Homo sapiens: one gene and its partner. The protein of the gene in region 1 purifies or fractionates together with the protein of each later gene. This does not show direct contact. Each region holds a gene or a part of one and is shown on either strand. Other genes may lie near its edges. The genes, in order: ZMYND11 and PPIG.

What was found.
Region 2: the proteins of ZMYND11 (region 1) and PPIG purify together in Homo sapiens (affinity purification with mass spectrometry, with the first as the bait; 2 studies listed by BioGRID). This does not show direct contact.

Annotation. Positions count from the first base shown.
Region 1 is NC_000010.11:236,233-243,472, reverse strand, and holds part of ZMYND11 (zinc finger MYND domain-containing protein 11), read right to left. Parts: intron 6,636-7,240; coding exon 6,558-6,635; intron 5,889-6,557; coding exon 5,796-5,888; intron 4,036-5,795; coding exon 3,948-4,035; intron 3,418-3,947; coding exon 3,362-3,417; intron 2,581-3,361; coding exon 2,503-2,580; intron 1,453-2,502; coding exon 1,334-1,452; intron 880-1,333; exon of another isoform or gene 1-879. UniProt on the Homo sapiens protein: Chromatin reader that specifically recognizes and binds histone H3.3 trimethylated at 'Lys-36' (H3.3K36me3) and regulates RNA polymerase II elongation. Does not bind other histone H3 subtypes (H3.1 or H3.2).
Region 2 is NC_000002.12:169,636,161-169,641,956, reverse strand, and holds the end of PPIG (peptidyl-prolyl cis-trans isomerase G), read right to left. Parts: coding exon 5,729-5,796; intron 5,545-5,728; coding exon 4,434-5,544; 3' UTR 551-4,433; downstream 1-550. UniProt on the Homo sapiens protein: PPIase that catalyzes the cis-trans isomerization of proline imidic peptide bonds in oligopeptides and may therefore assist protein folding. May be implicated in the folding, transport, and assembly of proteins.

The DNA of each region.
Region 1 (7,240 bases):
AAGTTGATGAAAAAGAAAAATATATAGATAAAAAGTTCTAATTATCAGATTATTCTTACCTATTAGTATGGCTATAAAAATAACTGAATTCTTGTTTTTTCTAAGTTAACTGTGTTTTATTTAATGTGAAAAACATTGAAGCAAACTTTCCCCCGTTATTCCTTGAATATCTGTTGTATTATAAAAGCTGACATTTATTGAGTACTCACTATGTGCTAGGTACTATGCTCAGGTCTCTCTGTAGCAACATTTCTTTAAACCTTACAAAAACTCTTATGAGGCCTTTATTTTGCTAAGGCTCAGAGAAACTGACTAATGTATCAAGATTAGGGTAGAAGACAGTGAAGCAAGAACACAATCTCACATAAAGACTTACCCTAACCTACCAAAAATACATTATTTCCTTGCCTATTCTGATAAGAAACTGAAACCATCCGAGTATGATGTATTAAGCATATGTTAAAAATTACCACTTAATGTAATTAAAACATTCATTTTGTATTGAGTTATTTTATTGGATCATTATTTAATGTTTCTTGACATGACAGTGTCAGGTAAGTGTGTATCTACCTATGAAAGAACAGAACTACCTTCTGGGAAATTTACAGTATTTATAGGTTTCTTATAACTACACTTCTGTTTAAATTAAATTAATGAAGACTAAGTAAAAATTTACCACAGGGAGGAGTAAGGTCCCTCATTGTGTAGCTTCTCTATGCACTAATAACCTCCTGGCATGACAGGAGACACCTCATGGACTGTTCATTTAAATCCTTACAAAGTATGACTTTTAGATCATGTAGCTGGTTTCTGTCACTTTTTCACCTTATCTCAATATCTGTGTTAAATGAACCAAATAAATTGCATGTGAATTCTTTATTCCTATTATGGCTTATTTCCACGCACGCTTCAGGTATTTACACACATTGTAAGATCACAAGATTGACGATTTTAGTCTATATGTCTTTAACTGAGCCTTGAAGATGGCTGGAGCAACTAGAGTAACTGTGAATATGGTAATGGTAATTCCATTACCATATTATGGAATGGACACATTCTGAGGCCCTTCTGCCCACTGTACTATAAATTCAGTCTTAACCGTAATGTGCTTCTGAAGTTCAACAGTGTCAGTTATTAAAAATTCCTGTTTAGTACACAATATCTGAAAAATATCTGGAAACAATTTATCTTGGAACGTATTCTTGGATGCATAATGTGTTTTTTTTTTCCAATTTAAAATAAACTTCATGCATCTCTGATGGAGAAATCATCAAACTTTCTTAAGGACTTCATAAGCACAGCTGTGACCGCTGAACATGGGATCACAAATTACCTCTGGTGGTGGTGGCCAAAGAAGCGAACGTCGACTTGATTGTCTTCTTTCTGCATGACTTTGGCTGGCCAAAACCCAAAACCTTTCATTTTAGCCCAAACCAGCTCATGATTAGGTATCTGGAAATTAAATGTTTTACCTTGTTATATTACTTTTAAAGTATTAAATGCAAGTGTACCATTAATATTAAACTAGTCACATATAATCCATTATTTCTAAAATATTTCTTTCATAACTCCTAAACACATACGAGATTTTTTTTCTGGGATTGACTGATTTTATATTTGCATCAGAGTGCCAACATGAACCTTATTCCTCAGAAGAGGTCGGGACTGGAGCAAGGCCATCCACATGTATGACGGTGGCAAACAAGAGCACCCGCTTGGCCAAGTGCAGCTGGGGAGCCAGCAGCTCCAGCACCCCTGGGAATTTGTTAGAAATGGGGAAATTTTAGGCTGGCACAGTACTGTCTTCACAGGGCTGGCTTCTCTCAGGCAGCCAAGGCTGCCGGCCAAGAATGCTCAGAATTCCCTTTGTCAGTGCACGGTTTGAAGCTGTATTATTTTGGGGAAATTATACAGCTACAGACAAAGGCAAAGCCTTAGGTCTCTTGTGAAAGGATGAAAGGAGAAACAAAAATTCACTTTATTAAGGGACCCAGACGCTGGGTGTGGTGGCTCATGCCTGTAATCCCAGCACTTTGGAAGGCCGAGGCGGGAGGACTGCTTGAACTCAGGAGTTTGAGACCAGCCTGAGCAACATGGTAAAACCCCATCTCTACAAAAAATACAAAAATTAGCCAGGTGTGGTGGCGTGTGCCTGTGGTCCCAGCTACTCTGGAGGCTGAGGTGGGAGAATCACTTGAGCCTGGAGGAGGTCAAGGCTACGGTGAGCTGAGATCACACCACTGCACTCAAGCCTGGGCGACAGAGTGAGACCCTGTCTCAAAAAGAAAAAGGACCCAATATTTATTTTTATTCAGTATCTCATTTTAAAATCAGAAATGGATAACAAGCCCTGTTACTTTTTTTCAGTTGTTTATACTCATTAAACCCATATATACTATGATATTTTAAAAATTTAGGAAGAAAATTATAATCTTTAACCAAACTGGAAATAAACTTCCTTAGAGCTGTATGTTACACACTTGAGGTAAAAATTTCACATACACAAGGATAACAGAACCAGTTGTCAGGACGAGCATTTGACAAGTAAAAGCAATTCTTGCAAAGCTGCAGTTCATCCAGCTGAAAAAGAAAAGAAACTACTTTAGCCTACATAAAATATACATACACATTAAACTATATAAAATGTATCCATGTAAATTAACATTCACGTATATAAATAGTGTTGAATTTTGTTTCTTAATCTTTTAAGCCTAAATTTTAAAGTTTTCAATAAATGGTACTGGAAGACCCTGTCACTGTCCTCTTAGAACCATGTCGCTGGTCTCAGGCCACAGTTGGAACAGAAGCTGAGGCTGGTCTGACTGGGCCCTGCCCGGACCTCACTGGTTAGCACTTCAGACTGAATATTCCTCAGGAAGGTAACAATATCTGCTGCCAATCACAGCAGTCCTTACCTTTGCCTCATGTATGTCAAACATGAAAATAAAAGACCTTTTTTTGTTTTGTTTTGAGACAGAATCTCATTTTGTCACCAGGCTGGGGTGCAGTGGCGCAATCTTGGCTCACTGCAACCTCCACCTTCCACGTTCAAGCGATTCTCCTGCCTCAGCCTCCCGAGTAGCTGGGACTACAGGCGTACACCACCACACCCAGCTAATTTTTGTATTTTTAGTAGAGACAGGGTTTCACCATGTTGGCCAGGATGGTCTCGATCTCTTGATCTCGTGATCCGCCCAACTTGGCCTCCCAAAGTGCTGGGATTACAGGCGTGAGCCCCCACGCCCGGCAATAAAAGACATTTAAAGGAAATGGCACAACTAAAATGTAGATAAGAGTGGAATCCTGAAATAAATTAATTTCAGTTATAGAAAGAGTATAACTATTGGGCAATGAATAGTACCTCATGACATGTGTCTTTATATAGCATCCTCGCAATGTCAGCTTGCTCACTGTCTGCTGTAATTAAAAATAGATATTACCTATAAGCAATAGTCTGCAAATACAAGACTCAAAGTTACTATCCTTTTCTTTCAGTTTGCAAAAGTAGACATCTACCATTTCAAACCAAAATGTCCATTTAAAATAACGATAGCAAAATAAAATTACACAGGCAGCTTTTGTTTTCCATCCAATACAACCACTAATTCTCAGGGTATAGAGAATGACCTTACCTTTGGATGATGTGGTACTAGTGGGGAAATGATCAGAATTAATCATAGTGCTTATTAAAAACCTCTCAGCTAAAACAAATACATATAAAACTGTAAAGAGTAATTGTGTTTTCATCATTTAGTATACTATGATTTTGTTTTTGGCCAGTCCATTCTATAATCTATATCACCAGATATTCCTAACCTTATACTCTAAACTTGTAGATCATTAAGGTATTAATTCTTTGAAAGTAATGTTTTATAAAAGATAGTGTTCAACATGGAATGTAAATGGTGTGTTTAAAAATGCATACAAAAAAAACAAAAATATTCAACCTCCATAGAAAATCACGGTATTGTGGAGAAGCAATTGGGCATCAGCTTTGAACTCTTCATAACTTCGGTATTTCCCTTCATTCACTTTCTGCAGAGGGCAAAAAACAGAATGACGAAAAGAGTTACCAGTAAAAATACTTGTCTGGACTAAGTTCACAGGACAAGCAGTCTTTTCTAGGATGACATCAGGATGACTACTGCCATCCCACAGTATTGACAGAGAATGTGTGTAAAAGAAGCCAACAACGCCACCTGCGGTTTTAATAATATAGTATAATGAAGCATGGCAGGTCAGATATCCCGCAGCCACAAAGACACTACATTAATTTATCAGAGTGAACTTTAATGGCTTGAACATCTCATTTGACAATAATGTAGAAAGCTGCTGCTAAGCTTGGTAGTGCACGAATGCTTGGGCCAGTGTGGGCGGTGAGACCCTAAGCACACACCTGTCATTCTTTACAACACAGGAGGATCGAGATTGAAAACAGAACTGTTAGCCTCTGTGACAGTTTACCATAACTACTAAGATATATTTATAGTTCTGAATTGGGGCTAGGAATTGGTTTATAAATAATTTTAAAATAACATCTCAGGTGTCCCTGTCTGTGACAAATCTTAGAGGATTTCAACAGGAAGGAACCTGCATGAGTAAAGGCAGTGGGGAAGAAGGGGCGTCTGGGTTCTTACATATTCTGTAGAGGTCTTACAGTTTAGAAGGGGCTATGGCTGGGGGTAGGAGGTAAAATTAAAACTACTTGGTTTTGTTCCAGGATTTACCAGTTACTTTAAGGGAAAAACCTTCATTTACCCTTATCTTATATTGAAATAATACAGCCACAGTCTTTCTTGGGTACTAAAGAAACTTGTGGCCGGGCGCGGTGGCTCACGCCTGTAATCCCAGCACTTTGGGAGGCCGAGGCGGGCAGATCACGAGGTCAGGAGATCGAGACCATCCTGGCTAAAACGGTGAAACCCCGTCTCTACTAAAAATACAAAAAATTAGGTGGGCGTGGTGTCGGGCGCCTGTAGTCCCAGCTACTCGGGAGGCTGAGGCAGGAGAATGGCGTGAACCCGGGAGGCAGAGCTTGCAGTGAGCCAAGATCACACCACTGCACTCCAGCCTGGGCGACAGAGTGAGACTCCGTCTCAAAAAAAAAAAGAAAAGAAACTTGTAAGATGATTTAAAATTATTCCTGTGGTCTCCCTATAGGCTATAATGACCAAGCGTTAAGATTTTAAATTTCCAACATGACACATGAGGTGCAAAATCAGTAATTCAGTAACCCTGACTGCAAATATGTCTACGTGTTCTACTGGATGTTGTTGCAATTTGTTACTGGACGTGAACAAACTAACAATCCTCAGCTATAGTTGGTAAAATTAAGACCTTTAAGAATAATTAACTTTTCTAATCATAATTTTTTTTGTTCATTTTATTGTTTCCCAAGACGGCAGATCAGTTCTATGCTTTACTTTTTTTTCTGAGAGGAACTCTCAGGTACCACTGCTAAACCTGGAAAACATTCTTTACATCTGAAATGCTAAATTGCCCAGGCTGTAAGGCATTTTCTTAAATCAACAAGGATCAAGAAGCTACAAGCTGCTCATCTTTAAAACCAGGCCTTTTAAAGATGACACCTAATTTGCATTAGAGTAAGCACATGAAATTTACAAATTAATAATGCTTCATTTGGTAGTTATGCCTGTCTTTTGTTTTAGGAAGTGGAAAAAAGTACACTTTCAAGGAAAGAAGAGCAACCAAAATCTGCTTAACTGCTACATTATTCTTTAACTTGTTAGTTAAGAAAATGTACTTGAAGTGGAAATAAAAGAAACCGACTTTACCTCTTGAATGGTGGGAACGTCCACAGCTGAGTGCACCAGCCTCCTGTACATCGGGTGTTTATTGTCCTTCCCCTTTTTATTAAGATCTATAGCCTAAGAGGGTGTTAGTACATCAATTTAAATGTGGTTAAAGGAAGGCAGGTAAGACATCAATTCCTAAAGCTCAAAATATTTTCTACCTTTTTATTTTTTATTTTTGTAGAGACAGGGTCTTGCCATCTTGCCCAGGCTGGTCTTGAACTCCTGGGCTCAAGCAATCCTCCTGCCTTGGCCTCCCAAAGTGCTGGGATTACAGGCGGGAGCCACGGCGCCCGGCCAATATTTTCTACCTTTAAAGCAAAATCTCAGAGGAAGTACTTTAAAACTTAACAGAAAAAATGTACATATACTACTATATAGTTTAATATGACATTCCTTAAAGTTGTGATAGAATAGTTATTTTGAAAAATTGCCTTTCATTTTAAAGAGTCATCATCAATGAAAATGTTCATTCTGATGAATGAAATTCAAAAATGTAAATGTTTCTAATCTCATGTAGCTTATGTCAAAATGTCTATGTCCAAAACAGACAAAACAAGAAAATCTAACTGCCTGTTATAGAACTGTTTACTGCAAAAAAGAAATATGACATGACGGGGTGCTCTCCACACTTCATATTGCTATGTACATATTTGTTACTTCTCGATCATTCAACTTTGAAAGAATGAACCATAGTAAAATGTGTTTTGGGATATTTTGAAAGATTCCCTGAGCAGGACTCACCCTCTCCTTCATGCGGGAGACAATGAATCTGAGGTATGTGCCCATCTCCTGTTTGTTTGTATTCTTCTTCTTAATGCTCTATTGAAAAAAAAAGAATAAAAAAAGGTACAAAATCTGATCATTCTTATGTCTATATTCATGTAAAAGACATATATGAAACACTTAGATAGTATGCAAAGAGTTTACTAAAAGTGCTCTTTTTCCAACATATCTGACAGAAATCTTTGACATTTGCATAAAAAAAACAGCATCTAATGTAACAAGGTGAGAACTTTAAAATATTATGTTGTACCTGATATAATATCCTTACAGGATTATATATTTTTTCTTTTCTTGGTATTTTAAAACTTAATTTTTAGATAAACAAATAATAGACATAAGGGATAATCGCTTATTTTACAAACAATATCAATGGCCTAAGTCCTTTGAGGGAACATCTTAAATTAGCAATAATGAATGGTGAATTTCAATACAACATTATTCTTCGTTTAAAAGGTAATTTTAAAAATCTGTGTCACTCACTTTGCACAGCGCAGCTGCATACTAACATCTCCATTTCTGAGCACCATGGATCTACTCAGTAATAACTCCAACTCTTAGTCTAGCCTGCAAGCTAATTAGGTTCCTCAATTTATTGCACCAAAAAAGTCTAACTTCACATGAAGAAAAAATAGGATTCTACG
Region 2 (5,796 bases), on another chromosome or scaffold:
TATATACCTTTCATTGTCAATATTCAGTATAACTAGGCATATATTTTCAATGACGCACTCTCAACTAAGTGCATTTTCCCTACATGTCTAATGTAAGAAAAAACAGCCCCCAAACTAGGTAATGTTTTACAGAATTCAATTAACATTTATGTTTACATGACTTCACCACTCTGTTATAGGCACAGGATCTATTACAGTGATCCTAATGCTGAAAAAAATGCGGAGGACTTAAGAAGCAAATGGTAGTGATCTAGTAGACAGTAATACAAATTCCGAGCTTAACCTTGAAAGTTTGCTGGGCAAAAGACACACTACAATCTGAAGTATTATGATTAAATATTTACATTAGAACATTCTCAAACCTGGAAATTTTCCCTGCTGGCTAAATTCTTAAAGCTCAGTATTGTTAAAACTTTGTTCAGTTTTTTCATAATGTAAATACCTGTATATCTGAGAGTAAAAGTATGTTTTAATTGGTTTATTTTCATTATTTAGCTTTTAATTTTTAAAAGGCTGGATAATACAATTTAAAAAATACAAAACCAAACTGTTTATTATAGTATAGTTTATTTAATACAATGTTTAACTATAAAAGTTAATACAGCTTCCAAGTTTCAATTTTGTAAAATGCAGTTTGCAGAAAAGTTCAACAATTACTAGACTAATGATAAGAGAAGCAGCATTTTGAAACTAATTTTACAATTGAGAAGACAACAGCTTTTTTTCTAAACTTCATTAAAAAAATATAATCACAGTGACTTTTGGGCTAGGAAAAGAAGTGCATTAACTTCATTTATGTTTTTTCCTTCCACAAAGAGAGCGGCCACAATTTTGTACATCCCACATACAAATACCCAATTCATTTATCTTTCAAAATACTATATACACACAAAAGGGGAAGAAAATATACAGCATGTGCTTTTGGTAACATATGGAATTTGCTTAAAGAAAAAAAGTCAGAAACACAAATCCACCCCACCACTCCCTCACATACCTTTTAAAACAAACTAAACCCCTCAACAACTCCCTACTCCAACCTTGTTGACGGAATTTTCTTATTCATGTCATTTTTCTTTTCCTTTAATATATACCTCTTTGTCACACAATAGGCCAAAGACTTTGCACTTGCCCGAATCCACTGAAGGCAGTTAGTTGGGAAGCTCACTATGGGCAGTTGTGCCAGTCAATGCTGTACTTCCTGGGGGCTTATTAATTTTTAAAACAAGTATTTGTAACAAAACACATCTTTTCACAATAAACAGCTTATCAACCTATAATCCTTATTCAATTGTAAATGTATAAATCCAAAATGAAATAATTACAGTAAACATAATCAAAAGGAAACAGAAGAACACCCATTTTGTTTCTTTATAACAAATCAGCTATGGTAGGTATTTAAAGTACCTTCTGGTGAAGGCAAACCCAACAAGCTTCTACAGAAATTTAGTATAAAAAGTTTAGTGTGATGAAAACTATATTACCAACTGGAATGAAGTACAATAAACTACTAACAAACATACTAACTTGCTACATATACTAACTAAAATAAATTAGAATTGTCAAGTTAATACCACTACCCAAAATACCAGAGATCCAATATGTGCCTATCCATAATGAAGAGTTCTTTAATTGTTTAGCTCCATACCTTCCACTAGGCACAAATATCAAAGGTCATTCCGCAAAGCCGTCCATGCATCAGTATCACATTTGTGCAAAGGCAGATTTATCAGATAAATTCTTTGCAACTTCTGAGGGCTTCAATTAAGTAACTTAAAACTATGAACTTACCAACTATGTAGTAATTTAATCAAAGAATGTTTTAAAGCAATCCAGTAGCTTCTCTACTGCTCATTTCATTAACATTAATCTCACCATAGTGTCAATTTCTGTGGCAGATGGCTTACCCAGAAAAATAATTCATACAAAATAACCATGAAAATTCTACATATTGAAAAAATTTTCTCAGCTATCACCAATTGAGCAATAAATCAGTTTAAATATTTTTAAAAGGATATTAAGTCAAAAATACTTTGACATGAACCATAAATTTAGACATAACTATAAAACCAACTTGATGGGAAAGTAATAGTTGACTTTTAGGAAAACAATGTTCAAAGCAAAAACTAAAGATGGCACAACTACTAAATGTAACAAAAGGAAAGGACCATTTGAGCCGTGTGCTATTCAGATGCATGCGCAGATCCTGAGGTACAGTTAATGCTGTTTAATCATTTTAAAAATGTTCTTTATATTCTAAAAATAAAATCTAGTTGATTGTCCTCTCAACTCCTTCACATCTGTTCTGTAAAGAGAGCTAATAAAACTTTAAAATAAGGACTATAAATAATGCGGAGCATGGAGTTGCTCTTTTGATAACCCAAACAGAATATTGCCTATAGAAATTACTACAATTTTTTTCCCTATGGTTACTTTTTGAAACTCTAAGATTTGGAAATCCTTATGTATAATTTTTAGTAGATAAAGCTCTGGGATCAGACAACATGTAAGAATTTTTACTTAGCATGGACTTAAAAAAAATATTTAACTGTTATTAGAAATCCTTTCTTAAATAGCACCTTTCTTAAAGCTCAAATAGTTTATAACAACAATTTTAAAATGCAGTTAACTGAAATTAAGACAAACAATAACTTGCTTAAACTACATAACGTTATATAGCTTGGGCACTCAGACTCAATTATCCCTAATGTGGGTTTGTGGTCAGTCTCTAAGGAATCAATCACCTTGGATTTTATAATAAACATCTACTACTTTTATCATCGGAAAAAAAAATTTTGGAAAGAATTCATTGTGGATATCTGTATTACAATTTTCCAAGCAATCTTATGGTCATTACACTATTCATTCTGCAACAGCTACCACAACGCCAAATATATCAATATTGCATTAATCAATAGTGGGAAGTATCATGTTAATAATTGCTTTATTCAGTACAAATAGCATTGAGTAGCTACTGGATTTACCAAGAAGCTACCTTGGTAACAGAGTTGACACTACACTGACAAATATTAAAGTACAAAACTCTCTAGAGAATCCTATTAATTGGAATTTTGAAATTCCTTTTCAAATGAGGCAGGTTTTATGTTTGCTGGATGTTCAATGTTTTATTTAGAAGAGATTACAGAATAAAAGGCCACACATCACAAAAATGGCAAAATACAACACCCAAAACTCTAAATGGACTTTGGATATGTTTAGTGTTTAACTCTGTAAACTATCAAAATTTGCAACTTTCTACTCTACTCTATATGGCAATGTTATACATGCCAAGTTAAAATAACATTAACAGTAATGGTATAAAACCACCTGAAGAGAAAGAAACCAGAGTCATAAACATGCTATAGCCTATCGTGATACATATATAGAAAAGATGCATTTTCTTGCCATTTGGAACTCACAGCTATGAGAGTTAGAGAAGTCAGTTCAATTAAAACAAACAAAATCCATGCAGAGTTAACACTCAATTCTATATAGGTTGGAGGCCAAAAAAGAGAAATCTTAGAAGTTAATGTCTCAATACTAACAATTTTTAGAATCTGTATAGCTTAAGGACCTGCACAAATGGTATGTTTTAATGAGAAAAGCTTTTTTTTTTTTAAAGTTTAGAGAAGGGTAATTAATAATTAAAACGTTCCCAAAACTCTTCAAACCAAAAGCAACACAGAACTGAGAATCACAATCTGATTTTCCAAGGTATAGTTCCTGTCAAATGCTGTATAACAGCAACTCAAGCTCAATCAGTACATCAACTGAAAAAAATTACTCTTACGATTTTTATAGGCAGTTAAGTAAAACACAACTAGACAGGAAAAGCATTAATAGGAAACAAGCTATGGCTCGAACTATAAAGAATAGAGTATGAAGTGCAATATAAATACATCTATTTTAAAGCACAAATTACTATAAAATCAAAAGTGATGATTTAAGATCTCAGGTTATTAGGACCCTGCTTCTGTGTAATTAAAAGAAACCGCTGCAAACCTCTATTTATAACGCAATCAGAAAATCTATACAAGATGTCTTCTAGTGGCTTCTAAAGTTACTTTAATCATGAGAAACACAAGCTTTTGCAACAATGCATTGCAACCATTCCAAATGGCTGACTAAACAAATTAGGATGCTATTGGCTAATTGTTGCAACACAGTAATGCATACATAAAATAGTTAAACACAGCACACAGTACTACACCAAAGTGTTTTTCTCATGTCGAGTTTATTAAAACTTTAGCAGTACAAATTATCCAGATTGCAGATTATCAAAAAATCAACTCAATGAAATCCACATTAAGAAAAAAAAGGACAAACATAAAACAATCCAAAAACAATGAAAAGGAAAACAACATAAAGGAGATTCATTAGCAAGTCTCTCAAACTTAAAATCCGAAACAGAATGGAAGTAAGTTTATATAACTCACTCATCCGCTTTTGTCTTCATCTGTTCCAGGGCTTGATTCATGATCAAATTTTTTATTTTTTTCATGTACATGGTCATTTTCTTGACCTTTTGATTTTTGGTTTTCTTTTTCCACTGAGGATCTGATCTTCTCATCCTCCTTATTTTTCAACATGGAGGACTTTAATTCATTGTCCTGACTGCTTTGTTTTATTTTTGAGAAGGGACTTTGATCTCTATCAGCCTTTTTTTCCCTGCTGTTATTTGAGCTATTATGATCACGACTTTTAGAGTACATTCTTTTCTCACTCTCAGAATTTTCTTTTCTGTGTGAGCTCTTACTCTCTTGGTTTCTGTATTTGTCTTTGTTTCTGCTTTGACTTTCTTCTCTCTCTGAGCTCCGTGAGTCTCTCCTCCTTCTCCTCCTATCTTTACTTCTTGATCTTCCTGGTGGTGTTCTTCTCTCTCGGCTTCGTGACCGTCCTCTTCTCCTGTATTCCTGTTCTCTGTATCTATGGTACTCCTTGCTTCTGCTGCGATCTCTGTCATGGGTTCTTGATCGCACTCTTCTGCTTCTGTCCCTACTTCTGCTTCGTTCTCTTGTTCTGCTATTATAACTGTGTTTACCTTTAGTTATATCACATTCTCTACTCCTGGATTGTGCGCGTCTATCCTTTTCCTTACTTTTACTGTGATCATGCTCATTACTCTTTGATTCTAACTGTTTAGACTTCTCTTTACTTCTACTCCTTTCCTGATCTTTTCCTTTAGAATCAGACTGCTTTTCTTTTTCTTTAACATTTTCATGATCCCTTCCTTTACTCCTTGACCTCATCCTCTTTTCTTCATTTCTATTATGTTTTGAATCTCTTTCTTTACTCTTTGATTTCTCTTTGCTCTTACTCCTACTTTTAGATTTGGCCCTTTTCTTCACTTTGTTTTTATACTTGTCATCTTTTTCTGAATTTCTTCTGATGTCTCTCTCTTTGCTGTTAGATTTATGGTCTTTAACTTTCTTCTCCTTTTCATTTTTTCTGTTTGGACTCTCAGATACATTCCTGTGATCTGTTATTTTTCTCTCTTTTACTCTAACTGGACTTCTCTGATTTTCTTTTATTTCATTCAACTCACTCCTAAAAAATAAGAAAAAGAATTGGGGAAATGTTATTAGGAAAAGAACTGTAGATATTATTAGCTAAAATGATATTCTACTTTTCTTAAGGTATTCAGCAATAACTAAAATGACAATAACTTTATGTATAATAGTAAAAGCAAACACTTATCATTACATTTGAAATAATAATAGTTAAATCTTACTTATCCCCCTTGATCCATCTTTCACCACTTGATACCCTCATTCTTTGAGCTCTCTGCATCTCTTGCCT